6 separate regions of the Homo sapiens genome follow, and all the other regions are linked to region 5. The links come from fine-mapping of genetic effects on gene expression. A gene starts in region 5. Each other region holds a variant in brackets. All regions are shown on one strand. Distances are between the middles of the regions. Region 1 overlaps EBPL (EBP like). Region 2 overlaps CYSLTR2 (cysteinyl leukotriene receptor 2). Region 3 has its middle 61 kb from the start of SPRYD7. Region 4 overlaps KPNA3 (karyopherin subunit alpha 3). Region 5 holds the start of EBPL (EBP like). Region 6 has its middle 5.4 kb from the start of ARL11.

Evidence for each region. PIP is the estimated chance that this variant, and not a neighbour inherited with it, causes the effect. A credible set is the group of variants that fine-mapping cannot tell apart.
Region 1: its variant is the best candidate, but not a certain one, in a credible set for the expression of EBPL in subcutaneous fat (TwinsUK, PIP 0.82).
Region 2: its variant is the best candidate, but not a certain one, in a credible set for the expression of EBPL in pancreatic islets (PISA, PIP 0.87).
Region 3: its variant is the best candidate, but not a certain one, in a credible set for the expression of EBPL in whole blood (INTERVAL, PIP 0.71).
Region 4: its variant is the best candidate, but not a certain one, in a credible set for the expression of EBPL in whole blood (INTERVAL, PIP 0.53).
Region 6: its variant is the best candidate, but not a certain one, in a credible set for the expression of EBPL in whole blood (INTERVAL, PIP 0.72).

Annotation. Positions count from the first base shown.
Region 1 is chr13:49,662,792-49,667,243 of GRCh38, reverse strand. It overlaps EBPL (EBP like), which reads left to right. Exons shown (of 4, transcript NM_032565.5): 3 at 4,049-4,187. Among named protein-coding and RNA genes, the nearest start is that of EBPL, 26 kb to the left of the region's middle. The variant AG/G (reference allele first, on the strand shown) is at 2,130.
Region 2 is chr13:48,697,296-48,702,397 of GRCh38, reverse strand. All of the region lies in intron 4 of CYSLTR2 (cysteinyl leukotriene receptor 2), which reads right to left. Among named protein-coding and RNA genes, the nearest start is that of CYSLTR2, 46 kb to the right of the region's middle. The variant G/A (reference allele first, on the strand shown) is at 3,020.
Region 3 is chr13:49,873,082-49,878,183 of GRCh38, reverse strand. No RefSeq gene overlaps it. Among named protein-coding and RNA genes, the nearest start is that of SPRYD7, 61 kb to the left of the region's middle. The variant G/A (reference allele first, on the strand shown) is at 2,668.
Region 4 is chr13:49,754,080-49,759,181 of GRCh38, reverse strand. The region is part of intron 1 of KPNA3 (karyopherin subunit alpha 3); the gene reads left to right. Among named protein-coding and RNA genes, the nearest start is that of KPNA3, 36 kb to the left of the region's middle. The variant C/T (reference allele first, on the strand shown) is at 2,881.
Region 5 is chr13:49,689,285-49,694,386 of GRCh38, reverse strand. It overlaps EBPL (EBP like), which reads left to right and starts at 2,901. Exons shown (of 4, transcript NM_032565.5): 1 at 2,901-3,133. The coding sequence starts at 2,963. RefSeq lists silencers at 2,776-2,975, 3,006-3,145 and an enhancer at 2,609-3,606.
Region 6 is chr13:49,620,806-49,625,425 of GRCh38, reverse strand. No RefSeq gene overlaps it. Among named protein-coding and RNA genes, the nearest start is that of ARL11, 5.4 kb to the left of the region's middle. RefSeq lists an enhancer at 4,437-4,620. The variant C/G (reference allele first, on the strand shown) is at 2,233.

The DNA.
Region 1 (4,452 bases), 27 kb after region 5:
TTTTTATTGTTTCAGTGTTTAATAAGCAAAGAGATGGTTAAAGTTTAGCAGTAGAGGAGATGCCAGAGGGACTGCCAGAGGGAGATGCCACAGGGAGATGCGCTGGGACTGGTGGATTCCAGGGCCCCTTACTATCCGTCCCCTACCTTCCTCTCACGCATTAACCTTCCCCCACCATCAGCTCTGCTAAACTGTCTGTAGATTCAGACACGCTACCTCTCAGCTCCAGGCCTTTGCACATGCTCCTCCCTGAAACACCCTTATTTTCCACTCAGATCTGGAGTCATCTCTTGTGGTATAAGGCCTGAAATTAGGATTCAGTATTATGTCTGCCTTTTTTTTTTTTCTTTTTTTTTTAACAGAGTCTCGCTCTGTCTCCCAGGCTGGAGTGCAGTGGCGCAATGTCAGTTCACTGCAACCTCTGCCTCCCAGTTCAAGTGATGCTCTTGCCTCAGCCTCCCAAGTAGCTGGAACTACAGGTGTGCGCCACCACGCCCAGCTAATTTTTGTTTTTTTTTTTTTTTTTTTTTTTGAGACGGAGTCTCACTCTTTCGCCCAAGCTGGACTGCAGTGGTGCTATCCCGGCTCACTGCAAGCTCCGCCTCTTGGGTTCATGCCATTCTCCTGCCTCAGCCTCCCGAGTAGCTGGGATTACAGGCGCCCACCACCACGCCTGGCTAATTTTTTGTATTTTTAGTAGAGACAGGGTTTCACCATGTTAGCCAAGCTGGTCTCAAACTCCTGACCTCAACTGATCCACCCGCCTCGGCCTCTCAAAATGCTGGGATTACAGGTGTGAGCCACCCTCCCTGGCTGGGATTCAGTATTATGTCTGCTTTGATACCTGGTAAGATCCAGGGGGGCCTCAGATGGCCAAACTGCAAGTCTCCCTCCCCACTCTGCTTCCACATATAAGGTTCCCTAACCAGATAGCTCTCCCTATCAAGGGGAGCAGGCACAGATTTGGAGGGGACAAATGCTTGTCCCCTCAGTAGCAGGCTTCAGTTCCCACCAGTCTGCCTGTGGAATTATCCAGACAAGCCAATCACATCCTCTGTGGGGAACCAGGGCTCATCCCACCCCCTCCTCTTGTTACTGCAAAGCCTGCCTGCGTGGCCCCTGCCCGAACACTGTTCCCAGGTGCAACCCCTATGTGGCCCTGCATGGCGAGATGTCCTCCTTTCCCGGGCCACAGTGTGTGCAACTAATAAACCTCCTCCATCTCATCTGCCCAGTGTCGGGTCTTGTGTGTTCAGCCATCACCATAGCCCTCAGGCAGAAGTCCATCCCTCACCAACAGGGAAGAGAGGCAGTGATCAAAACACCTCCTCCAGGAAGTCTTCCCTGAAGTTCGTAGTCTGGCTTCAGTGCCACTTCTTCCCTGCCCTCATATTCGCTAACCGCCACTTACTGCCTGGTTTTCAGCCTCACTAGGATGTGGGCCACTAAGGGCCAACATGGTCCTACTTGCAGCTGCATTATCAGGGCCTACCATAACACCTTCCAAATGCTTAAAAAAAAAAAAAAAGACTTGTTGAAGGCTGGACACGGTGGCCCACGCCTGTAATCCCAGCATTTTGGGAAGCCAAAACAGATGGATCACTTGAGGTTAAGTTTGAGACCAGCCTTGCCAACATTGTGAAACCCTGTCTCTACCAAAAATACAAAAATTAGGCCAGGTGCAGTGACTCAAGCCTGTAATCCCAGCACTTTAGGAGGCCAAAGCAGGTGGATCACCTGAGGTCAGGAGTTCAAGACCAGCCTGACCAACATGGTGAAACCCCATCTCTATTAAAAATACAAAATTAGCCGGGCATGGTGGTGAGTGCCTATAATCCTAGCTACTTGGGAGGCTGAGGCAGGAGAATTGCTTGAACACGGGAGGCGGAGGTTGCAGCGAGCCAAGATCTGGCCATTGCACTCCAGCCTGGGTGACAAAGTGAGACTCCGTCTCAGTCAGTCAGTATTAGCTGAGTGTGGTGGTGGGTGCCTGTAGTCCCAGCTATTTGGGAGGCTGAGGCTGGAGAATCACTTGAACCTGGGAGGCAGAGGTTGCAGTGAGCCGAGATCATGCCATTGCACTCCAGGCTGGGTAACAGTGAGACTCCTTCTCAAAAAAAAAAAAAAAA[AG/G]ACTTGGTCAATATCTCTTTTTGTTCCTAAAGAACTGACATTTTACTTAGGTGATATTTTATTAGATTTTAGGTGCACTAACTGGTACATTTCACCTATTGTATGTATATTTAAATTTAGAGGAGAAACGTTTCAATATGACATTGTTTTCCAGTTAGTTATTGGAGGGCACAGGAGACTGCAGACAGTCAGCTAAGGACAGGCTGATGACTCTCGGTGGCCTCTCACAGAACATTCCCTCAGCATGTGCCTTGTGTGTTATCCCATTAAATAGCTAATCCTCTTATTGTCCTTTCTCTTAGGACAGCCTTTTGTTAGAAACCTTTGTCCCAGGCCCTGAGGGATCCTTCCTCTGGTCTTTATGAGACAAGAGCTGTGTGCTGCTCAGTAGCAGATCACAGGCTCCTCTGTGGACTTCACACCTTTTCTGAATAATGCGAGGCAGTATTAAAGGGGGAGACGAGGTGTGATCACTTCCATTTTTTCACTGTAATCATTTGAGATCTTAGGACCAGCATGTATTACTTTTACAAATTAAGAAAGTAATTAAATAATTTTTAATGGCCTCCATAATACCTGGCCATCATTCCAGCCCTGAAAAGACTTTCTGAGTCATGGTGTTCCTGAGAAGAAACCACTCTGATAATGGGTCTGGATGGATCTCTGAGAGCACACTGGCTCCCCAAGCAGCACAGCTGAGACTGTGTGAGAGCCATTGTGAGTTCCCTGTCCCTGTGGGCGGAGATGCCCCTCTGCCCACTCCGATTCATTCTGCAGTCTGGGCTCTCTCCTCCCCTCCCTGCCCACTGTCCCTTCAGCACCTAGTTTCTCTTCTGTTATTAATAAACGTGTTGTTGTATTGAGATAGAGTCTAGCTCTTGTTGCCCAGGCCGGAGTGCAGTGGTGCGATCTCGGTTCACTGCAACCTCCGCCTCCTGGGTTCAAGCGATTCTCTTGCCTCAGCCTCCCAAGTAGCTGAGATTACAGGCATGCGCCACCACGCCCAGCTACTTTTTGTATTTTTAGTAGAGACACGGTTTCGCCATGTTGGCTGAGCTGGTCCCAAACTCCTGACTTCAAGTGATCCGCCCACCTTGGCCTCCCAAAGTGCTGGGATTACAGGCGTGAGCCACCGTGCCTGGCCAAGAAACAAGTTTTTGGTTGTTTGTTTTTTTGTTTTTTTTTTTTTGAGACGGAGTCTCGCTCTGTCACCCAGGCTGGAGTGCAGTGGCGCAATCTCGGCTCACTGCAAGCTCCGCCTCCTGGGTTCATGCCATTCTCCTGCCTCAGCTGGGACTGCAGGTGCCCGCCACCATGCCTGGCTAATTTTTTGTATTTTTAGTAGAGACAGGGTTTCACCATGTTGGCCAGGATGGTCTCGATCTCCTGACCTCGTGATCTGCCCGCCTTGGCCTCCCAAAGTGTTGGGATTACAGGTGTGAGCCACCGTGCCTGGCCATAAACGTGTTTTTTATAAACATGTCCTTCATAACAAATTTCCCACATCTCCATTATACTTACAGAATTTATATGGAAATTTTGAAGTAAGGAATTACAATGTATTTACCAAGATCATGACTGGAGATTGTCTTTGCAAAATCTGACCATGTTGAATTCTTTTAAAATTCTGCTACTTATGTTGAAGAGGGTGGGGCTGAGGAGGGCGTGTATGTGAAAGCATGCTGGAAACTGAATGATTGGACACCTGTAAACCTGCTGCTGTTCTCAGTGCTTGTGTCAGGTGGTAAACGCATTTTGGTCCCAGGGCTTCTCCTGCCTTCCACTAAGGCATCGTGAAGAATGCAGAGAGAGTGGCGATTACTCATTTTATCTCCACCTTAAAGGAAAGAAAGGTCATTTCCATGAACTGTCATAAAAATTGTTGCCATTTGAGTAACAACATGGATTTTGTCTTTAGGGAAAGAATATGGCAAAGCTGATGCAAGATGGGTTTATTTTGATCCAACCATTGTGTCTGTGGAAATTCTGACCGTCGCCCTGGATGGGTCTCTGGCATTGTTCCTCATTTATGCCATAGTCAAAGAAAAATATTACCGGTAGGTGCCCTTCTTCTGTCCTGCTGGAAGGAGGGGAGACATTACATGTCCCAACACTTAGGTGACCTTTGGAGTAGGTTGTGACCACATATATTTGTTAGATAAAAGGTGGAAGAATAGAGGCTGGGCGCGGTGGCTCCCACCTGTAATCCCAGCACTTTGGGAGGCTGAGGCGGGAGGATCACCTGATCCCAGGAGTTTGAGACCAGCCTAGGCAATACAATGAGACCCTGTCTCTACAAGGAATAAAAAATTTAAAAATTAG
Region 2 (5,102 bases), 990 kb after region 5:
AGTTCTAGGGTACGTGTGCACAACGTGCAGTTTTGTTACATATGTATACATGTGCCATGTTGGTGTGCTGCACCCATTAACTACTCATTTACATTAGGTATATCTCCTAATGCTATCCCTCCCCCTCCCCCCACCCCATGACAGACGCCGGTGTGTGATGTTCCCCACCCTGTGTCCAAGTGTTCTCATTGTTCAATTCCCACCTATGAGTGAGAACATGCAGTGTTTGGTTTTCTGTCCTTGCGATAGTTTGCTCAGAATGATGGTTTCCAGGTCATTCATGTCCCTACAAAGGACATGAACTCATCCTTTTTTATGGCTGCATAGTATTCCATGGTGTATATGTGTCACATTTTCTTAATCCAGTCTATCATTGATGGACATTTGGGTTGGTTCCAAGTCTTTGCTATTGTGAATAGTGCCACAATAAACATACGTGTGCATGTGTCTCTATAGTAGCATGATTTATAATCCTTTGGGTATATGCCCAGTAATGGGATGGCTGGGTCAAATGGTATTTCTAGTTCTAGATCCTTGAGGAATTGGCACACTCTCTTCCACAATGGTTGAACTAGTTTACAGTCCCACCAACAGTGTAAAAGCGTTCCTATTTCTCCACATCCTCTCCAGTACCTGTTGTTTCCTGACTTTTTAATGATTGCCATTCTAACTGGTGTGAGATGGTATCTCATTGTGGTTTTGATTTGCATTCCTCTGATGGCCAGTGATGATGAGCATTTTTTCATGTGTCTGTTGGTTGCATAAATGTCTTCTTTTGAGAAGTGTCTGTTCATATCCTTTGCCCACTTTTTGATGGGGTTGTTTGATTTTTCTTGTAAATTTGTTTAAGTTCTTTGTAGCTTCTGGATATTAGCCAGATTTTAGGTTTTACATTTAAGTCTTTGATCTTTCTTGAATTAATTTTTGTGTAAGGTGTAAGGAAGAGATCCAGTTTCAGCTTTCTACATATGGCTAGCCAGTTTTCCCAGCACCATTTATTAAATAGGGAATCCTTTCCCCATTGCTTGTTTTTGTCAGGTTTGTCAAAGTTGAGATGCTTGTAGATGTATGGTATTACTTCTGGAGGCTCTATTCTGTTCCATTGGTCTATATCTCTGTTTTGGTACCAGTACCGTGATGTTTTGGTTACTGTAGCCTTGTAGTATAGCTTGAAGTCAGGTAGCATGATGCCTCCAGCCTTGTTCTTTCGGCTTAGGATTGTCTTGGCAATGCGGGCTCTTTTTTGGTTCCATTTGAACTTTAAAGTAGTTTTTTCCAATTCTGTGAAGAAAGTCATTGGTAGCTTGATGGGGATGGCATTGATCTATAAATTACCTTGGGCAGTATGGCCATTTTCACAATATTGAATGTTCTTCCATTTGTTTGTGTCCTCTTTTATTTCATTGAGCAGTGGTTTGTAGTTCTCCTTGAAGAGGCCCTTCACATCCCTTGTAAGTTGGATTCCTAGGTATTTTATTCTCTTTGAAGCAATTGTGAATGGGAGTTCATTCATGATTTGGCTCTTTGTTTGTCTGTTATTAGCATATAGGAATGCTTGTGATTTTTGCACTTGATTTTGTGTCCTGAGACTTTGCTGAAGTTGCTTATCAGCTTAAGGAGATTTTGGGCTGAGACGATGGGGTTTTCTAAATGTCATCTGCAAACAGTGACAATTTGACTTCCTCTTTTCCTAATTTAATACCCTTTATTTCTTTCTCTTGCCTGATTGCCCTGGCCAGAACGTCCAACACTATGTTGAATAGGAGTGGTGAGAGAGGGCATCCCTGTCTTGTGCCAGTTTTCAAAGGGAATGCTTCCAATTTTTGCCCATTCAGTATGATATTGGCTGTGGGTTTGTCATAAATAGCTCTTATTATTTTGAGATACGTCCAAATACCTAGTTTATTGACACTTTTTAGCATGAAGGGTTGTTGAATTTTGTTGAAGGCCTTTTCTGCATCTATGGAGATAATCATGTGGTTTTTGTCTTTGGTTCTGTTTACATGATGGATTACGTTTATTGATTTGCATATGTTGAACCAGCCTTGCATCCCAGGGATGAAGCCAACTTGATCGTGGTGGATAAGCTTTTTGATGTGCTGCTGGATTTGGTTTGCCAGTATTTTATTTAGGATTTTTGCATCAATGTTCATGAAGGACATCAGTCTAAAATTCTCTTTTGTTGTTGTGTCTCTGCCAGGCTTTGGTATCAGGATGATGTTGGCCTCATAAAATGAATTAGGGAGGATTCCCTCTTTTTCTATTGATTGGAATAGTTTCAGAAGGAATGGTACCAGCTCCTCTTTGTACCTCTGGTAGAATTCGGCTGTGAATCCATCTGGTCCTGGACTTTTTTTGGTTGGTAGGATATTAATTATTCCCTCAATTTCAGAACCTGTTATTGGTCTATTCAGGGATTCAACTTCTTTCTGATTTAGTCTTGGGAGGGTATATGTGTCCAGGAATTTATCCATTTCTTCTAGATTTTCTAGTTTATTTGCTTAGAGGTGTGTATAGTATTCTCTGATGGTAGTTTGTATTTCTGTTGGATCAGTGGTGATATCCCCTTTATTATTTTTTATTGCATCTATTTGATTCTTCTCTCTTTTCTTCTTTATTAGTCTTGCTAGCAGTCTATCAATTTTGTTGATCTTTTCAAAAAGCCAGCTCCTGGATTCATTGATTTTTTTTAAGGGTTTTTGTGTCTCTATTTCCTTCAGTTTTACTTTGATCTTAGTTATTTCTTGCCTTCTGCTAGCTTTTGAATGTGTTTGCTCTTGCATCTCTAGTTCTTTTAATTGTGATGTTAGGGTGTAAATTTTAGATCTTTCCTGCCTTCTCTTGTGTGCATTTAGTGCTATAAATTTCCCTCTACACACTGCTTTAAATTGTCCCAGAGATTCTGGTGTGTTGTGTCTTTGCTCTCATTGGTTTCAAAGAACATCTTTATTTCTGCCTTCATTTTGTTATGTACCCAGTAGTCATTCAGGAACAGATTGTTCAGTTTCCACGTAGTTGC[G/A]AAGTTTTGAGTAAGTTTAACCCTGAATTCTAGTTTGATTGCACTGTGGTCTGAGAGACAGTTTGTTATAATTTCTGTTCTTTTATATTTGCTGAGGAGTGCTTTACTTCCAACTATGTGGTAAACTTTGGAATAAGTGTGATGTGGTGCTGAGAAGAATGTATATTCTGTTGACTTGGGGTGGAGAGTTCTGTAGATGTCTATTAGGTTCACTTTGCGCAGAGCTGAGTTCAACTCCTGGATATCCTGGTTAACTTTCTGTCTTGTTGATCTGTCTAATGTTGACAGTGGGGTGTTAAAGTCTCCCATTATTATTGTGTGGGAGTCTAAGTCTCTTTGTAGGTCTCTAAGGACTTGCTTTATGAATCTGGGTGCTCCTGTATTGGGTGCATATATATTTAGGATAGTTAGCTCTTCTTGTTGAGTCGATCCCTTTACCATTATGTAGCAGCCTTCTTTGTCTCTTTTGATCTTTGTTGGTTTAAAGTCTGCTTTATCAGAGACTAGGATTGCAACCCCTGCTTTTTTTTGTTTTCCATTTGCTTGGTAGATCTTCCTCCATCCCTTTATTTTGAGCCTATGTGTGTTTCTGCATGTGAGGTGGGTCTCCTGAATACAGCACGCTGATGGGTCTTGACTCTTTATCTGATTTGCCAGTCTGTGTCTTTTAATTAGAGCACTTAGCCCATTTACATTTGAGGTTAATATTGTTATGTGTGAATTTGATCTTGTTATTATGATGTTAGCTGGTTATTTTGCTTGTTAGTTGATGCAGTTTCTTCCTAGCATTGATGGTCTTTACAATTTGGCATGTTTTTGCAGTGGCTGGAACTGGTTGTTCCTTTCCATGTTTAGTGCTTCCTTCAGGAGCTCTTGTAAGGCAGGCTTGGTGGTGACAAAATCTCTCAGCATTTGCTTGTCTGTAAAGGATTTTATTTCTCCTTCACTTATGAAGCTTAGTTTGGCTGGATATGAAATTCTGGGTTGAAAATTCTTTTCTTTAAGAATGTTGAAAATTGGCCCCCACTCTCTTCTGGCTTGTAGAGTTTCTGCCAAGGGATCTGCTGTTAGTCTGATGGGCTTCCCTTTGTGGGTAACCCTACCTTTCTCTCTGGGTGCCTTTAACATTTTTTCCTTCATTTCAACTTTGGTGAATCTGACAATTATGTGTCTTGGAGTTGCTCTTCTCGAGGAGTATCTTAGTGGTGTTCTCTGTATTTCCTGAATTTCAATGTTGGCCTGCCTCGCTAGGTTGGGGAAGTTCTCCTGGATAATATCCTGAAGAGTGTTTTCCAACTTGGTTCCATTCTCCCCGTCACTTGCAGGTACACCAATCAGACGTAGTTTTGGTCTTTTCACATAGTCCTCCCATATTTCTTGGAGGCTTTTTTCATTTCTTTTTACTTTTTTCTCTCTATGCTTCTCTTCTTGCTTCATTTCACTCATTTGATCTTAAATCACTGATAACCTTTCTTCCACTTGATCAAATCAGCTACTGAAGCTTGTGCATGCGTCACATAGTTCTTGTGCTGTGGTTTTCAGCTCCATCAGGTCATTTAAGGACTTCTCTACACAGTTTATTCTAGTTAGCTATTTGTCTAATCTTTTTTCAAGGTTTTTAGCTTCTTTGTGATGGGTTAGAACATCCTCCTTTAACTTGGAGAAGTTTGTTATTACCAATGGTCTAAAGCCTTCTTCTCTCAACTCTTCAAAGTCATTCTCCGTCCAGCTTTGTTCCGTTGCTGGCAAGGAGCTGCATTCCTTTGGAGGAGAAGAGGCGCTCTGATTTTTAGAATTTTCAGCTTTTCTGCTCTGGTTTCTCCCCATCTTTGTGGTTTTATCTACCTTTGGTCTTTTATGATGGTGACGTACAGATGGGGTATTGGTGTGGATGTCCTTTCTGTTTGTTAGTTTTCCTTCTAACAGTCAGGACCCTCAGCTGCAGGTCTGTTGGAATTTGCTGGAGGTCCACTCCAGACCCTGTTTGCCTGAGTATCACCAGTGGAAGCGGCAGAACAGCAAATATAGAAGAACGGCAAATGTTGCTGCCTGATCCTTCCTCTGGAAGCTTCATCTCAGAGGG
Region 3 (5,102 bases), 180 kb before region 5:
CTAGGTGACAGAGTGAGACTCCGTCTCACAGAAAAAAAAAATAACAAAGAACAGAAATTCATTCTCAGTACATGACCAGTATTATACTTTAGTGCTAGCCCTATCTGCAGAACAGCAAATGTAGTGTGAATCAATGCAAGCATGTATGTGAGATGTGGTTCTACGCTAAATCTGGCTTCATGCTTAACTATATTTTTTAAAATTGCCAAACTACCAATGTATTTCTTTACAATATTTCCTATATTTCTTATTTTACCTTCATCAAGACTACAAGATTTAACTATAAGCAATGTTAATTAGCCAAATTTCTCCAATTTTCTATCAGGTTTTAAAGAATATTTGCATGAAGAGAGACACACAGACAACGTATGACTTACACAGACCATCTGTGACATGCTTGGACTTTCTGTTTTGTTCTACATTTTCCCTTTTTCTTTCTGTTTTGTTTTTTTGTTTTTTTTTTTAAATAACCAGTCATTTTACTTTAGGACAAAAATTTGCCATACAAGATCCTTTTTCATACATAATTATTCTATTTTCTTTGGAATCTTTTCTTTAGAACCTATACCAAAAATACATCTTCATATCCATAACTTTGTTCACATCTCTCTCCTGTACTTACTGGTTACTTTCTACCTTGTTTCATAAATAACATTTTCAAACCCATAATTTGAATTAACCTTTAGATAACTTCTGAACCAGACAAAATGATTCTTTTTCTCAATAAAAACACATCTTTTTTGGCACACTTTATATACAGAATTATATATTAACTAGAATTCTTATTCTTAGTAACCTTAAATTTTAGTGAAAAAACCTAGGAAGTAGGAAATCCTGAGCTGCTTATCAGATATCAGCATTTGATAGATGAGAACTAATCCACAATTTGTAAAATTATTTTTTCCCATATCATAACCATTTATTAATTGGAAATGAATCAGATATCCAATAAGCATCAAAAATAATTTTAAGATTTTAAATTATACAAAATGTTTACCTATAACATGTATCCCATTTACATGTACTCAATCATTTCATTTTTTAAGTTCATCTAGATTACTTCTGAAAACTGAGATATAAGACACAACTAGTCATCAATCAAAGTAATTTCCATTTTTTATTTTTTATTTTTATTTTTTTGAGATAGAGTCTAGCTCTGTCACCCAGGCTGAAGTGCAACCTCCACCTCCTGGGTTTAAGTGATTCTCCTGCCTCAGCCTCCCAAGTATCTGGGATTACAGGCCACTGCCACCATGCCCAGCTAATTTTTGTATTTTTTTTTAAAGATGGGGCTTCACTGTGTTGGCCAGGCTGGTCTCGAACTCCTGACCTCGTGATCTGCCCACCTCAGCCTCCCAAAGTGCTAGGATTACAAGTGTAAGCCACCGCATCCAGCTAACCATTTTTTTAAATAGCCAGGATCTAAGTAAGAAACTTAAAGTTAAATACATAAGTATTTTTTGCCAATAACTCAGAAGATTCAGCTAACAACATTAAATTGATCTCTTTTGTCAAAGAAGGCACACAAACGAAGATTATTTTGTTTATTCCAGCTGGGTTCAGTTTTATAACCTTCTGTGCCAAACCCTGACACCTCAAAACATCTAGCAGAGACAAATATAAAACCTAGACAAAAATGTATGCTGACAATTCTGAAGACCCTTCTACTTTTATTTTATCAGTAATTTTAAAGCCAGCTTCTTTATTAAAGGTTTATGTAAGTCTTGTGAACTTGAAAAAGACTTTGGACTTAATATATGAGTTTTTTGTATTTATAAGCCAATTTGGTAGACACAACATATAACGTACATACATAAACATATATAGACATGTATACACACATATATAAACAAAGATACAATAGCCTTTGCCTTTGAACTGTAGCCATAAGATAGCAATACAAATCACCAGTTTATGTGGCTACACTTTGTTTGACTGGATAGGCAATCCAGTGAAGGCTGTGAACCAAAATTGTGGGTAAAGCAGTTTCCATGGCAATTTGTTTTTTAAAGGCCAAACCTCTCCAGACTCCAAAGAACACTGAAGCCAAACAGCACCATGGGAGAACATCGCATGATAACCAGGCCCAAGGCTGGGCGTGGTGGCTCACACCTGTATTCCCAGCACTGTGGGAGGCTGAGATGAGTGGATCACGAGGTCAGGAGTTTGAGACTAGCCTGACCAACATGGTGAAACCCCATCTCTACTAAAAATACAAAAATAAGCCAGGTGTAGGCCGGGCACAGTGGCTCACGCCTGTAATCCCAGCACTTTGGGAGGCCGAGGCGGGTGGATCACTTGAGGTCAGGAGTTCGAGACCATCCTGGCTAACACAGTGAAACCCCGTCTCTACTGAAAATACAAAAAATTAGCCAGGCATGGTGGCAGGCGCCTGTAGTCCCAGCTACTCGGGAGGCTGAGGCAGAAGAATGGTGTGAACCCAGGAGGCGGAGCTTGCAGTGAGCTGAGATTGCGCCACTGCACTCCAGCCTGGGCGACAGAGCGAGACTCCGTCTCAAAAAAAAAAAAAATAAGCCAGGTGTGGTGGAGCGCAACTGTAATCCCAGCTACTCAGGAGGCTGAGGCAGGAGAATCACTTGAACTCATGAAGTGGAGGTTGCAGTGAGCTGAGATCACACTACTGCACTCCAGCCTGGGTAACACAGC[G/A]AGACTCCATCTCAAAAATAAATAAATAAATAACCAGGCCCAACTCTGCTTAGAACAGCAGCACAAAAGCCTGGATACACAGAACTCCATCCCACTTTCCCATTCAACAGCAAACTCCAGATTCCAAACAATATTGGGGTCAAACAGTATTACAAAAGAATTTCAGTTTATTGAATTCTGATTTCCCATGGCACACACACAATCACCAAAACACAATTCAAATGCTACAGCAATAAACAAGCCCCAAGAGTGTCCAAGCTGAAACATTTGGGGTGCTTCCTCTCTCTATTGGTTGGGCTTGATCAACCTGCAAATAAAATTCCTTTGAAATTTTTCAAATTGAGAGGATCCAATCCTGCTGTGTGGTACCTGCAAGACACTCACTTGCCTGGACACACACACATACACACACACACACACACACACACACACACAAAACACACAATTACAAACAAGCCCCCAAGAATGTCTACACTGAAACAGTCAGGGTGCTTCTCTCAAGTCAGTTGGGCTTGTTCAACCTGCAAATGGAAATTTCTATAAATATTTCCCAAATTGAGAGGAGCAGATCCTGCTATCAGGACCCACAAAGGACACTATCCCATGTGGATGCAGATGTCAAATTTCAAAGGATGCTCTTTCTAGGCAATCAGGAACACAGTTGGGGTCAGCAGCAGGGCCAGAGGGAGACCAAAACTCACCTCCAGACAAAATTGGGTGGGCAGCTGCTTAGGATGGCTTCTGAGATTCCTGGCCTGCAGCAGCCAAACCATGAGCAATGTGTTCCTGGTCAGGGAACCAAAATCTGTTACCGAAACAGCAGGGTTTAGTTTAGGTCCTGCTGCTCCCCCTACAGAAAGCCAATGACTGAGATGATGAGTATTGCCAAGGAAGAAGGCTTTAATCGGGTGCTACAGCCAAGGAGATGGGAGGTCAGTCTCAAATCCATTTCCCTGACCAATTAAAATTAGAGGTTTATATGGCAGGGAAGAAATTTAGCAATGTGTGGGAAAACAGGAACTAGGGAGGAGTAAGAAAGCAATCATGATTAATGACGCATGAGATCATCTCACTTTCTGGATGTGGGGATCATCTGGTGAGTTTCAGTTCTTTGAAACTTTTTTTTTTTTTTTTTGAGATGGAGTCTCACTCTGTCACCCAGGCTGGAGTGCAGTGGCGTGATCTCGGCTCACTGCAAGCTCTGCCTCCCGGGTTCATGACATTCTCCTGCCTCAGCCTCCTGAGTAGCTGGGACTACAGGTGTCTGCCACCAAGCCCAGATAATTCTTTGTATTTTTAGTAGAGATGGGGTTTCACTGTGTTGGCGAGGATGGTCTCGATCTCCTGACCTCGTGATTCGCCCGCCTTGGCCTCCCAAAGTGCTGGGATTACAGGCATGAGCCACCGCAGACAGCCAGTTCTTTGATAGTTTTTGAGAGTCCTGGGTGTCCTTTCCTGAAGAAGGAACTCAGATAAAACAAATATAAGTTTAAGACCAGAGGGGTAAATTTCTATGTTTATCCAAAAGGACTGTCTGTGAGACTACTGGGTCACAGATTGTCAGAGAAAACTGGAACACAGACAATGTCTTACCTAAAGAAGAATTGCTGTCGTTGCTATTTTTTAGAATAGAACTTATTTTATTCTGATTATAAAATGTTATAGAATTAGCCATCAGAGAAACACAAATCAAAACCACAATGAAATACCACTTCACACTCACTACGTTGGTTATAATCAAAAAGGCAGATAATAACAATTGTTGGTGAGGATATGGAAAAAGTAGAACCCTCATACACTAATGGTAGGAATACAAAATGGTGCACTGTTTTGAAAACACAGTCTGACAGTTTCTGTATGTTAACAAAGAGTTAACATATGAGCCAGCAATTCTACTCCTAAGTATGCACCCAAGAGAAATAAAAACATATGTCCACACAGAAACTTGTATATGAAATGTACATGACAACATTATTCATGATAGTCAAAACTTTGAAACAATTCAAAGGTGAATGGATAAATAAAGTGTGGTGTATACAAGTCAATTTAATATTTTTTGGCAGTAAAAAGAAATGAAGCACTGATACCTGCTACCACATGGATGGACCTTGAAAACATCATGCTGCCTGAAAGAAGCCAATCGCAAAGAACCACATTCTGTATGATTCTAGTTACATGAAATGTCCCAAACAGACAAATCTATAGAAACAAATAATAGATTAGTTGTTTCTGGCCGGGTGCAGTGTCTCCCACCTGTAATCCCGGCACTTTGAGGGGCCAAGGCAGGTGGATCACTTGAGGTCAGGAGTTTGAGACCAGCCTGGCCAACATGGTGAAACCCCATCTCTACTAAAAATACAAACAAATTAGCCTGGTGTGGTGGTGCATGCCTGTAATCCCAGCTACTAGGGAGGCTGAGACAGCAGAATCACTGG
Region 4 (5,102 bases), 65 kb before region 5:
GACAATTTAGTTGTTTGGGTTTTTATTTCCATTTCCTGGATTTACAGATTGAAATCTATGTGTGTTTGAATTCATTGTCTTATTGATAATTGATAATAATTGTATTGTCTTTGAACATTTGGAGCCTCTTCATGTTAGCTCTTGAGTAGTTTTTACAAGACTCTAGTCTCGTAAATATCTTTGATATTTGGTATGTTAAGATATTGCAGGCTTACCTTGTACCTTTTCTGCCCATTAGTTGGAATGAACCAGTTCTGTTTGCTATTGGTGGTATTTTTGAGAGTATTGTCTATGCACTCACTGATTTGGTCACTGTTTCTAGGCGTTGGAGATACACATCTCCAAGTAGACATCTTGGGGTGGATAGATATAGGATTAAAACAAAATTTTGTGTGTGTGTGTATGTATATAAACATATGTGTGTGTGTATATTTATATGTATACATATTTATATGCATATTTATATACATACATACACACATAAACACACACATATAATGCATATATTGATATTCCAATTCAAATTCAGGACTATGGGATTTTACTAAACAACTTCTATCATATATCCGTCTTTCTCCTAGGCCAAACTTCCTGTTTTTTTCTGACACCAGGAATAATAGAATATGACATTTTTACTCATTTGCTTTATTCCACATAGACACATAACAGTCTCAGAATAACAACACCAGCAGCGCTGCACCCAGTAATAGGGTTACCGAGAACAGTTTGGAGTTTTCCTGGTAGTTCTCTTTAGGGTTAACTGGAGATGCAGGGTTAAATTGCTGTGTTGAAAAGTTACACAGGATAGTGTGATTATGCTACCAAATGGATACACGTTTAGGTTCATTTCTTTATTTTTAGGGATTGCTTTTCTTGTTAAATTTGATTTTGTCATATTCATACGCAGTTTATTTTCATGGTTTTAAAGTCAAGTCCTAGTTTCCTTGTCATCACCTATATATTTATGTGTAAAATAATCATTGTATGTGATCTGTTTTATTTTTTGTTTTAGTATACTTTTGGCCTCTAGTTTGTGGTTTTGTTTTTGTTTTCTTTAGTCCTCTCTTTCTTAGTTATTTTCTATTGATTCCCCATCATGTACATTATTGAAATTAGTTGTGACCTTCTCTTTTCCTTCCCCCTCAGCATCTGATGTATATCCTTTAAAATTTTTATTAAAAACTGACCTTTATTTTGAGGTGATTGTAGATTGACATGCAGTTGTAAAATATAACACAGAGATCCTGTTTATCCTTTCTCCAGTTTCCCCAGTGGTAACATCTTGCAAGATGCTCGTACAGTATTTATGTTCATCCAAGTCATTGTTTGTATCAGCAGTTTGTTTCTTTTAATTGCTATATGGTGTTCCATGGTATGGATGTACCACAGTTTAAGCGTGAAGGATACCTGGGTTGTTTCCAGGTTGTAGCTATTAAGAATAAAGCTGTTGTAAACATTTGCGTACAGGTTGTGTGTGTGTGTGTGTGTGTAGATGAGTTTTCATTTATCTCATATAAATGTCCAATGTGTAGTTGCTGGGTCCTGTGGTTGTTACATGTGTACTTTAAGAAATGGCCAAAGGTGCTGTCATTTTACATTCCCACAAGCAATGTATGAAAACTCTCCATACTCACCAGCATTTGAAAGTATCACAATTTTAAATTTTAGATGTATAATAAGATTTCATGGTGGTTTTAATTTGCATTTCCCTAATGGCTAATAGTATTGAACATCTTTTCATGTGCTTATTTGCCATGTGTATATCCTCTTCCATGAAATATTTTTTCATTTCTTTTGCCCATTTTCTAGTTCCATTGGTTGGTTGGTTACCTGTTGAGCTTTGAGAGGTTTTTTGTTTTTGTTTTTTAATTCTAGATACTAGTCCTTTCTTGGATATGTGGTTGCAAATTTTTTTTTTTTAGTCTCTAGCTTCTCTTTTTATCTTCTTTACATGGGTGTTCAAAGAGCAAAATAGTTTTTTATTTTGATGAGGTCTAGTTTACCAACTATTTCTGTTATGGATCATGCTTTTTACGGTCAAGTTTAAGAACTCTTTGCCTAGCCCCAGATCCCAAAGAATTATCTCCTGTGGTTTTTCCTAAAAGTTTATAGTTTCACATTTATTTTGAATTAAATTTTTTTTAAGGTGTGAGGCTTAAGTCAGGGTTAATATTTTTGTCTGTCAATATCTATCTGGTCCAGCACTGTTTGCTGAAAAGTCTATTGATGTCCTCCATTTAATTGCTTTTGCACCTTTGTAAAAAATCAGTTGGATATATTTGTGTAGGCTTATATTGGGTTCTCTGTTCTTTTCAATGTGTATATTCTTCCACTGATATCACACAATGTTTATTACTGTAACTATGTAATATATCTTGAAATTGGCTAGATTGATTCCTTCCACTTCGTTTTTCATTTTCAGAATTGTTTTAACTATTCTACTTACTTTGCCTTTCCGTATAAATTTTAGAATAATTCTGTATCTGCAAAATATATTGCTGGGATTTTGATAGGAATTGCATTAAACCTGTATATCAGTATGAGGAGAATCAACATCTTTACCAAGTTGAGTCTACCAATCTATGAACACAATATGCCCCTCCATTTTTTCTCTTTTTTAAGCTAGAAACAGGATCTTGCTCTGTCACTGAGGCTGGAGTGCAGTGGTGTAATCATAGTTCACTGCAGCCTTGAACTCCTGGACACAAGCGGTCCTCCTGCCTCAGCCTCCCAAGTAACTAGGACAATAAACACTTGCCTCCATACCTGGCTAATTTTTAAATTTTCTGTAGAAGCTGAGTCTCGCTATGTATGGTCTTGACCTCCTGGGCTCAAGCAGTCCTCCCTCCTTGGCCTCCCAAAGCACTGGGATTACTTGAG[C/T]CATCATCCAGCATTGTTTGTTTGTTTTGAGGCAGGGTCTATCTCTGTCGCTGTGGCTGGAGTGCAGTGGCACAGTCTCCACTTACTGCAGCCTCCGTCTCCCGAGCTCAAGAGATCCTGCTACCTCACCCTCCCCAGTAGCTGAGACTACAGGCATATACCACGATGCCCAGCTAAATTTTTTTTTGCTTTTTTTTGTAGAGATGAGGTTTTGCCATTTTGCCCAGGCTAATCTCAAATTCCTTGGCTCAAGCAATCCACCTGCCTCGGCCTCCCGAAGTGCTGGGATTACAGATGTGAGCCACCACACCCGGCTGTTGTTTGTATTTTTAATTTCAGTGTCTATGTGTTCATTGCTAGTATATAGAAATATAATTGATTTTTATGTTGTATTCTGTGACATTGTTGAACTCACTTAATAGATCTGGAAAGTTTTTGGTATATTCCTTGGAATTTTTAAATCATCTTTTCTGCAAATAATTGATTGTTTTCTTTATTTTATTTTTTATTTTGAGATGGAGTCTCCCTCTGTCGCCAGGCTGGAGTGCAGTGGCACGATCTCGGCTCACTGCAACCTCCGCCTCCTGGGTTCAAGCGATTCCTCTGCCTCAGCCTCCCGAGTAGCTGGGACTACAGGTGTGCACCACCACGCCCAGCTAATTGTGTTTTTAGTTGAGATGGGGTTTCACTATGTTGACCAGATGGTCTTGATCTCTTGACCTCGTGATCCGCCCTCCTCAGTCTCCCAAAGTGCTGGGATTACAGGAGTGAGCCACAGCACCTGGCTGGGATTATTTTCTTTCTTTTGCATCTATATGCCTTTTACTTTATTTTCTTGCCTTATTTTACTGGCTGGAACTTCTTATACTATGTTGAATAATAGTGGTGAGAGTGGACACCATTTTCTTGTTCTCAATCTAGGGAAACATAGTATTCAGACTTTTCACCACTAGAATGTTAACTCTAGGCTTTTATTTTTCTGAGTGTTTTTACTATAAATGGATGTTGAATTTTGTCATTTTTTTCTGCATTGAATAATATAATCATTGATTTGTCTTCATTAGTCTATTAGTATGGTTTATATTGATTGATTTTCAAATACAGAACCAGCCTTGTATCACTAGAATGAAGCCTGCTAGTATAGTGACTTCTAGTTGGTAACATTTTGATAAGGATTTTTGTATCTGCAGTCATTGAGAATATTGGCCTGCAGTTTCTTTTTCTTCTTTTTTTTTTAATGCTGTCTTTTCTGGTTTTGTTATTCAGGTAATTTTGTAATTAGCTTCATAAAGTGAATTGAGAAGTGTACCCATCTGTTTTTTGTAGAGATTATATAAAATTGGTGTTAGTTCTTCTTTAGGCATTTGGAAGAATTCTCTAGTTAAACCATCCAAACCCTGAAGGGAAGTTTTAAAATTACAAATATAATCATCTTAATAGTTAACAGCGTTATTCAAATTAGGTATTTCATATTGAGTGAGGTGTGATAGTTCTTGCTTTTTGAGTCATTGGTCCATTTCATCTAAATTGTCAAATTTGTGTGTGTAGAGTTGTTTGTAGTTTTCCCTTGTTCTTTTGATGTCTGCAAAGTCTGTAGTGATAGTACCTTTTTCATTTCTAATATTATAACTCTGCATTTTCTCTTTTTTTTTGGCCAGTCTGCTGATTTTTTTTTTTTTTTGAAAGAACTAGCTTTTCATTAATTTTCTCTACTTTTTGTTTTCAATTTCATTGATTTCTGTTTATTCCTTCTGCTTGTTTTGGGTTTGTTTTGCTTTTTATGTTGTAGGGTGTCGAAGCTGGGAGTTTTGATTATTGGTTTGAGACTTTCTCTCTTTCTTAATGTTTGCATTAGGTGCTTTAAATTTCTCTCTCAGCACTGCTTTAACCTCTTTTCTGCTCTACTTCAGCATCTGATGTGATGCAATTTCCTTTTCTCACCAGTTAATAGTTAATAAGGCAATCAATACACTTAGTTGTTTTTTTGTTTTTATTCTTCTTGAGATGGAGTCTTGTTCTGTCACCCAGGCTGGAGTGCAGTGACGTGATCTCAGTTCATTGCAGCCTCCACCTCCCAGGTTCAAGCAATTCTCTGCCTCAGCCTCCGGGAATAGCTGGGATTGGATTACAGGTGCAACCACCACACCCGGCTATTTTTTGTATTTTTAGTAGAGATGAGGCTTCACCCTGTTGGCCAAGCTGGTCTTGAACTCCTGGCCTCA
Region 5 (5,102 bases):
TGGTCACATTAGTGAGTGAAGCACAGACGAGATGGTGAACAGGTCCATGAAATGCATGGAATCAAGAAATACTTGGCTGCTGAGGAGGAGTTGGTGATGCCTTAGATGCCAAGTTTGGGGAGAGAGAAGTATCGGGGATGATTTCTAGGTTTCCGGGTTGTAGTAACTGATGAGTGGAAGTAACATGAGATAGGAAGGAGAATCAGACATTGGGGTGGAAAGTGATGAGCTCAGTTTGGGTTATATTGAGACATCCAAGTGACTGTCAAGTAGGGCAGTTGGAAATACTGGTCTGGAGTCCAGAGAATAGGACCAGGCTAGAGATTTGAGTTCTCTGCAGGTTTTGCTGGTCATTAAAGCAGAGGGTAAGGATGAGACTGCCTGGATTTGGGGTCTGGAGTGAGAACAGGGCCGAGGACTGGGTTGTGGAGCTGCAGCATTCACTAGGCATTTGTAGTGGAAGATGCACTTGCAAAGGAAACAGAATGGCTAAGGAGGCTGTATTCTCAGAAAACCAAAGGAAAAATATTTCAGTGCTGGGATGCTGCTGAGAAGTAAACTACACTAAGAAAATGAACTGTTCTTGGGGTTCAGTGATGTGGAGGCCAGTAGTCACCTTAGTGAGAGCTATATCAGTGTGATAAGGCAGAAACCAGAGTAGAAAGGACTGAGGAGCAGGGTCAAGACATGAAGACAGGGGATCTGATCAGTTTTTTCATTAAGTTTCTATTTTGCTCTGAAGGGGAGGTGGGCCGAGTGGTCCCTAAAGGATGATAAGTTAGTTACAGGACAGGATCCAGAGCATAGGTGGCTAGATTGACCATACTCAGTCGCCAGTTATTTAACTGAGCAGCTAATATATGCCAAACTCTGTAATAGGTGCCAGGGATACAGCAATAAAAAAGCTAGCCACAACCCCTGGCCTTGAAGACTTACATTATAGTGGCAGGAGATTAGCAATAAGTGTGTAAACAAGGATCATTCTATCTGGTGTTAACTGCTATAAAAAATGGTATAGGAAGTGACTAAGGGAAAAATTTCTTGTGTTCAGTGCCAGCATTTTTTTTAATAACTGTAAAATACACATAAAATTTGCCATCTTAACCATTTTTAAGTGTGCAGCTCAGTAAAGTATGTTCACGTTGTTGTGCAACCAATCTCCAGAACATCATCTTGCAAATCAAACTATCCGAATAAATAACACTCCACTTTTCCCCGCGCCCCCCCCCCACTCCCGCCCCGCCCCACCCCTGGTAACCATCATTCTATTTTGTTTCTGCAAATTGATTATTTTAGATATTTCCTGTAAGTGGAATCATAAGTATGTTTTTGTGACTGGCTTATTTCACCGACCTCATAGGGTTGTTGTGATGTTAAATAATGTAGGTTTGTTCCCGGACCAAACTGGGGGTTGGGCAGCCCAATAATGAGGTGCAGATGAACTGGGGAAGAAGAGTTTTTATTTCTGCAACCGGTTACAGGGAGAAGGTCTGGAAATTATTGCCAGACCAACTCATAATTACAAAGTTTTTCCAGAGCGTATATACCTTCTAAGCTATATGTCTACGTGTAAGAGTGCATTCATCTAAAGACGTAAGTGATTAACAACTTCTAATCCTGAAGACCTTCCTCTGGAGCCTCAGTAAATTTACTTAATCTAAATAGGTCTGGGTGCTGGGATGATTACCCTTATTTTGTCTCTTGCTAAATCATGGAGGCTTGTGGAATTCCTCCAGACTCCCAATAAACTTGTTTTTGGAGGCCTGGGGAGTTTCTTCAGACCCCCAATAAAACTTGTTTAATCCTAAACGGGTCCTGTTAAAAATTCCTTAGTTATCTTGTCATGCTTCAAGGCCCAAGAAAGGCCTAGGCAAAACTCTTGGTGGGCTTTTGTTACATTCCAGACTTTGGTATATGGGCACTGACTCTTTCAGCTTTTAATTTTTTTTTTGTTTTTTGAGACGGAGTCTCGCTCTGTTGCCCAGGCTGGAGTGCAGTGGCGCGATCTCGGCTCACTGCAAGCTCCGCCTCCCGGGTTCACGCCATTCTCCTGCCTCAGCCTCCGGAGTAGCTGGGACTACAGGCGCCCGTCACCACGCCCGGCTAATTTTTTGTATTTTTAGTAGAGACGTGGTTTCGCCGTGTTAGCCAGGATGGTCTCGATTTCCTGACCTCGTGATCCGCCCGCCTTGGCAAAAAGTGCTGGGATTACAGGCGTGAGCCACCGCGCCCGGCCTCAGCTTTTAATATTTAATTTAACCACTCAGTGCTGAAGCAGTTGTGATGGAGGCCTGCGATAGTGAAACCTGGCCTGCCACAGGTTAAACGCATCTATCGCCAAGCCAATAGGACTTACCGCTCCTCTCACCCACCCTTCTACTTTTCTGGATTTTTAAGAAATGGAAAGATTGTCAGAGTAGGCCATAAAGGCTTTAAGCCGGCTGGTGGCTGAAAACTCCCTTGGCCCCCAGCCTCCCTGGTAAGGCTTGCTGCAGCCTAATTAAAACCTTTTGCCCCTAAAATTCTGCCCCGGTCTACTGGCAAAATTTCCACTACCTAGGCTTCACTTTGTGGCTTAAAGTTTGAGCCTTGTTAAAAGCGAAACAACATCAAAAGGTGTGGCCCTATTACCAATCCTTTGGGCTCGGTTTGGGAACAGGTTTGGTCGAGGCGGTTGCGCAAGTTGGTGAGCACGTTCCTTCTACGGAACCTCCATGGGCGGCACCTGGCAAAACCACCGGACTCAGCAGGCTGGCCAGGGTGCGAGGCGGGCACGGAATCCTCGCTCTGGCCCCGACCCGGCCGGGGAGCCCCGTCCCTCCCCGGACCGCCTTGGCCAATCAGCTCCGCTCCTCCTTGGCCATCCGGCTCCGCCCCTTCCCGGCCAGCCCCGCCCCGTCGTTTCTCTCCCTGCTTTCCTCTGCCGCATGGTCCTGGGCCGTTGGCGTCGGAAGCCTGAAGCATGGGCGCTGAGTGGGAGCTGGGGGCCGAGGCTGGCGGTTCGCTGCTGCTGTGCGCCGCGCTGCTGGCGGCGGGCTGCGCCCTGGGCCTGCGCCTGGGCCGCGGGCAGGGGGCGGCGGACCGCGGGGCGCTCATCTGGCTCTGCTACGACGCGCTGGTGCACTTCGCGCTGGTAAGTGCCATCGCCTAGACCCTGCACTCCCCATCCCAGAGAGTGGGAGCGGGGGCGGCAAGGCGGGGTGAGGGGGTCCTGCGGCTTTTTGCAGCGAGCTGGCCGCCCCTCCCCCTGCTGCAGGAAGTCTGTTAGCTGAGAGGCGCCTGGAGGCCGCGGCGGCCGGAGTTCTGATTCCCAGGTCTGTGAACAGAGCGCAGCTTACCTTGTGCTGCCGATTCCTCCACCAAACTTTAAAAAAATTCTGTACGTGCTATGTTAGTTTAGAAGATACCTCAGCTTCCTCGGCTTTGTAACCTGCACGTAACTGTTGAACTGGACATAATTGAGAGTAGAATTGAGGTCATTTTTAAATGCCCCAGAGGGGGCAAGGAGAGATGCTTGCTCCGGAGGCAGCAAGGCTATTGTCGCAAAACCCGAAGCCTTTGCCAAGACAAACGAAACACCCGTGTCTAATGTGTGCCAGGCGCATTACTGAGTTTAAAATTTCAGATCTTTACAGCATCCATAAATTAGTTATTATTGTTCCCCATTTTACAGAGGTGAAGGTAGGCGCTGCAAAATTAGGTGACTTTCCAGTGCCACACAGCTGGCATGATTCTGAGGCAGTCTAGTCTGGCTCCCAAGTTTGCACTCTGTGTATCAGTCGAGGTCTTAGGAAATATGTGTCCTTAGAGATTCAACCCATTTTATAAAATAGCCAGGAAGGTTGTGTTTAAGGCATTTATATTGAAATGCCCCGCCCCCCACCACACACGCGCACGCACACACACACACACACTTTTAAGTTTTTTTTAAACTATGCCCAAGTATCAGTTTGTTTTTTTTTTTTTTTGTAAAGTTGACCTTGTTTAACTCTAGACACACCTGTGGCTAATGTGAAGCCAAAGTCAGTAGTATTGAGAAAGCAAGCCGAGTTTTGGGTAATCATCGAGTTCTGTAAATGTTTACGGGTTGGCTTTGTGCCCATGACTGATGTTGCTGGAATTCTTTTTATTCTGATAATCAACATGTAGAGATAAGGGACAGTGAATGTTTCTCTCAACTCCTTTATTTATAGAATTCTTTTTTTTTTTTTTTGTCTTTTTTTTTGTTGTTGTTCTTGAGACAGAGTCTAACACTGTTGCCCAGGCTGGAGTGTAGTGGCACTATCTCGGCTCACTGCAACCTCCGCCCCTTGGGTTAAAGCTATTCTCCTGCCTCAGCCTCCCGAGTAGCTGGGATTACGGGCGCCCGTCACCACGCCCAGCTAATTTTTGTGTTTTTAGTAGAGATGAGGTTTCACTATGTTGGCCAGACTGGTCTCAAACCCCTAACATCAGATGATCTGCCCACCTTGGCCTCCCAAAGTGCTGGGATGACAGGCGTGAGCCACCGCCACCGCCACCAGCCGAGAATTGATTTTTAAGCTATCACTTGAACACAAGGTTTCCCACAGAACAAGGGAGATAAAGCAGATTGCTAGGCCCGGTTAGAAAAAATGTATAACAAAATGTATAACATAACAAAAATGTTGCTAGGCCCAGTGAGAGAAAACTGTGTAACATATTGGCTGGGTATAACTGTATATAGCATATCAGAATGTATATATATAAAAATGTATAACATATCGGACACAGTGGCTCATGCCTGTAATCCCAGCATTTTGGGAGGCTGAGGCGGGTGGATCACGAGGTCAGGAGTTCAAGACCAGCCTGGCCAACATGGTGAAACCCCGTCTGTACTAAATATACAAAAATTAGCCAGGTGTGGTGACGGTGCCCATAATCTCAGCTACCCGGGTGGCTGAGGCAGGAGAATTGCTTGAACCTGGAAGGTGGAGGTTGTAGTGAGCCATGATCAAGCCACTGCACTCCAGCCTGGGCAACAGAGCAAGACTCTATCTTGGGAAAAAAAAGAAAAATGTTTAACATACCTTAGACAAACAAAAAGCTGTAAAAATACTTAAACTATATGCGTGTGTTCACCA
Region 6 (4,620 bases), 69 kb after region 5:
GGCTCCCCCAGACATCAAGGAGCCTTGCCTGAGGGCCAAAGTCTTGTGTTCGCTGGGAAACCATGATTACTTTGTGACCCCAGTTCTGCCCAAAGGCCCTTGTGGCCTGAGTTTCTCTGTACAGCCCCGACCCTGACCCCTTCAGCTCAACCAGCAGGGAAGCTTTTCATTAGACACCCCAACGTGGGGAGGCTCACGAGGGCTACTGCCCCGGGAGGCAGCGCAGAGCAGAAGGTAACAGTGTGGCTTTGATTTGGGTCCACCTGGGGGCACACTTGGCCTCCACTGCTTATTTGCTGTGAACCTCAACCTGAATTTCTCTGCACCTCAGTTTCCTTCTCTATAAAATGAGGTTGATGACGATAATAATGGTACCTAACTTGAAGGGTTATTGGAAGGATTTAATAAGTGAAGACACATCAAGTACTTAGCCCAAAGCCTGGCGTCTAGTCCCAGACTAGTTCTGTTAGAGAAGGACAGGAGAGCCCTCAAACGTAGTGGTGTGGCTGGAGAAAGTGACGCTGGTGAATGTGCAAGCCCCAGCACCTTTGTGTGTCTGTGACTGCAGCTTCCAGACCTGGAATAAGGAAAAGGGGCTACACGGGGCTCACTGATACCAGGAGAGACAAAGGTCTTAGGCCCCATCTCTACTGCCCTAAGAGTGTGAGTTTAGAAATGTCCTCCTGCCAACTCTCATACAGGTGGTCAGGCCTGGAGGAGCACGGCACGCCCATTGCACTCACCAAAAAATAACTTGTAAGCCAGGATGCTTCTTCTGATGTTTCTTATGGGATCTGTTTGACCCAAGAGCTGGGGCGGTTTTCTGTGCAGCACAGCTAAGGGAAGGCAGGGGGCCAGGGGCACGCAGAGGACACACACAGGGACTGAAGGAGTCAACTGTAGGGACGACATCCAAATGGGTTGCTGGAAGACCATGGAAAGTTGGTGGTTTTTAAGGGGTTGTTTATCATGCAACAGAGCCTCGTGGTCACTTTTCTGCTCTCTACAGATAGGTCCAAAGGAGGAGAGTGCTAGAACAAGAGCTTTATTCTCCTGGAAAGTGCTAGAGAAACATGGACGGAGTCTCTTGTCCAGCCCTCCTTTCCCTGGGCTCCATAACGGCCCCCACCTTTTTATCTTGTTGTGACCTCCTCTTGCTCTGGTCTCTCACTTTCTCAACTTGCAATATGCAAATTAATAACTTTTTTCCAGGGACTGCCTCTTTTAAAAATCAAATTCTATTTCTTTCTATTTTCAAGCCATCCATACAAAATTCTGAAGGTACAAAAGAGTAGAGCATCAAGGACGTTCTCCTTTCACCGCAGTGCTCCAGCCATGCCAGACCCTCCCTGGGAAACAGCTCACACCATTGGTTTCTTAGACATTTTTCCAGAGATATTCTACGCACATATAAGCAAGTAGGGTGCATTGGGGTTTTTTTCATGGTTTTCCTTTTTTTTTCCCTCAATAATCACTTACTTTGAGGAATGCAATTTCTTGTATAAATCTCTCAATCAGAAGTTCTCAGCCATGAGCTGTGTTGAGGATCAGTGGGAGACAAAGGGGAGGAGAGACAGCCAGGAACCCTAGGAACCATCCACCTTTCCTACCCACCACCAAGTCCCCAGTGAGTGATGTACAAGATGGGGCTGGGTGGGGTACAAGTTACCTTTGTGGGTACTGTGGTGAGAACCAATGCTCCAATCATGCTGAAGGTTGAATGAAATTCTCCGAGAAATTTCCTCCCTCTATGACCATCATGTATTAGGCAACCCATGGGGCCCTAAGCTATATATCTGAATTTGGGGTGGTTGCTACAGATGTAACATGTGTATCAGTGACTGTTTACAGGTACTTATGCCCATGATTCAGCTTTCCCCAGATGTGGAGAAAAGTGGACAGAGAGTACAAGGTCTACTCATATACAGGAAAGAGTAGTTCTCAATGACCACTCTTGGAGAGTTTGATTTGAGCATGTGCCTGACATTCAGTGAGTGGGGACTAGAGATGCTAGACATCCTATAACACCCAAGAATATTTTGTGCAAGAAAAAAATGTTTCTTAAATTTGAATTTCACTTTTGAATGTCCCAAACATTTATGTAGTAGTTTAAAGAAAAAAAACACCATTTAAAAAGTATCTGGGCTGGGCTCGGTGGCTCAAGCCTATAATCCCAGCACTTTGGGAGGCCAAGGCGGGTGGATCACGTGGTCAGGAGTTCAAGACCAGCCT[C/G]GCCAATATAGTGAAACCCCGTCTCTACTAAAAATACAAAAATTAGCCGGGCATAGTGGAGCGTGCCTGTAGTCCCAGCTACTTGGGAGGCTGAGGCAGGAGATTCACTTGAACCTGGGAGGCAGAGGTTGTGGTGAGCCAAGATTGTGCCACTGCACTCCAGGCTGGGAAACAGAGGGAGACTCCGTCTCAAAAATAAAATAAAATAAAATAAAATAAAATAAAATAAAATAAAATAAAATAAAATAAAAACTATCTGATCCTAGAACCTAATTTTGTTTTATATGTAACCGCAGACTATTTTCATGTGGTTTTCATATACACTACACTTTCCAGAAACACAACTACTGTATGCATTGAGGAAAGTTTGCACTTTGTTCTGTTTGGAGCTTTTCCAAGAGCTGCTCATTATTTTGGAAAATCACATCACTGACAGCAGCGCTTTGAATAACAGCGTGGCATTTAAGTTGCTGATAAGACGCACCAAAACGGCGATCCACTGCCATGGTGCTCATGTGGATTCTAAATTTAGATGCAAGAACGTGACAACTTCATTAATGTGATTGTCCTGAGCACTTATGTATGGGAACATGTATTATTTTATTTCAAATTACCTTCCGTTGGGTAGAGTGGCTCACATCTGTAATTTAAGCACTCTGGGAGGCTGAGGCAGGAGGATCACTTGCCCCGCCCAGACCCATACTGGACATCACTCATTGGGGACTTGCCGGTGGGTAGGGAAGGTGGGTAGTGCCAAGGGGTCCTCACTGTCTCTCCTCCCTTTCATCTCCCACTGATCCTCAACAAGGAGTTCAAGACCAGCCTGGGCAACATAGCAAGACCCAGTCTCTACAAAAAAGTTAAAAATTAGCTAGGCATAGTGGTGCACACCTCTAGTCCCAGCTACTCAGAAGGCTGAGGCAGGAGGATCATTTGAGCCCAGGAGTTCGAGGCTGCACCACTTGCACCACTGCACTTCAGCCTGGGCTATAGAGCAAGACTCTGTCTCTAAAAATAAATAAATAAATAAATAAATAAATACCTTCATTTATTTCTTACGTTATAGTTACAGCATTATACTGATTGTTTTTCAAGATTGTGTGGCTAGGTAGATGCTATTGTGTATTATTTTCATTTCTAGACTTTACAAATGAATATTGTAAAATATTTGTTACATTAAAAAAGAGGCCACTTGCTCTGTTTCAGGGCTTATCAGTAGAGGAGGACATAGCTGGGTAGAGGAAACTGAAGAGAAGGGACCAGAAGTGGTGGTGCCAGGTGGGATGACCAAGAAAGACCTTAAATCAGCAGTCATCCATGGTGACAGCCAGAGGGGCCAGCATCTTGCCTCTGAATCAGTGAGCTCCGTTGCTTCATGGTACATGTGGTCTCATTCCTACATGGCACCTGCTTCCGCCTGTGAACTATGGTCTGCCCTGGAGCACAACGTGGGCAGTGGTTGCATAGGGGGCAAAGGAGCTTGCATGAAAAAGTGTGAGTCCACCACCAGAAAGTACTCCAAATTCATAATAGGGTTGGGATTTTTATGGGTGAAGATCTTAATTAGTTATAGGACACAGTAGATAATGATTGCAAACACATTTTATTTATATCTATAACACATAGATATATTTATTAACTCTATTTTTTTTTTTTTTGAGACAGAGTCTCGCTCTGTTGCCCAGGCTGGAGTGCAGTGGCGTGATCTCGGCTCACTGCAAGCTCCACCTCCCGGGTTCACACCATTCTCCTGCCTCAGCCTCCCCAGCAGCTGGGACTACAGGTGCCCGCCACCGCGCCTGGCTAATTTTTGTATTTTTAGTAGAGACGGGGTTTCACCGTGTTAGCCAGGATGGTCTCGATCTCCTGACCTAGTGATCCACCAGCCTCGGTCTCCCAAAGTGGTGGGATTAAAGGCGTGAGCCACCGCGCCCAGCCAACTCTATTTTTATATGTTTTTTAAAATATACATTTTGGCCAGGCACGGTGGTTCATGCCTGTAATCTCAGCACTTTGGGAGGCCAGGGCAGGAGGATTGCTTGAGCCCAGGAGTTCAAGATCAGCTTGGGCAACATAGAGAGAACCCATGTCTACAACTATATAATTTAAAAATTAGTCGGGTGTGATGGCATGCAGCTGTAGTCCCAGCTACTCAGGAGGCTGAGGCAGGAGGATTACCTGCACCTGGGAGGTTGAGGCTGCAGTAAGCCATGATTGCGCCACTGCACTCCAGCCTAGATGACGGAGCAAGACCCTGTCTCAAAAAATAAATATATAATATAATATAATATAATATAATATAATATAATATAATATAATATAATATAATATTAGTATAGTATAGTATAGTATAATATAATATAATAATTTGTGATTTCTGTGTGTCCT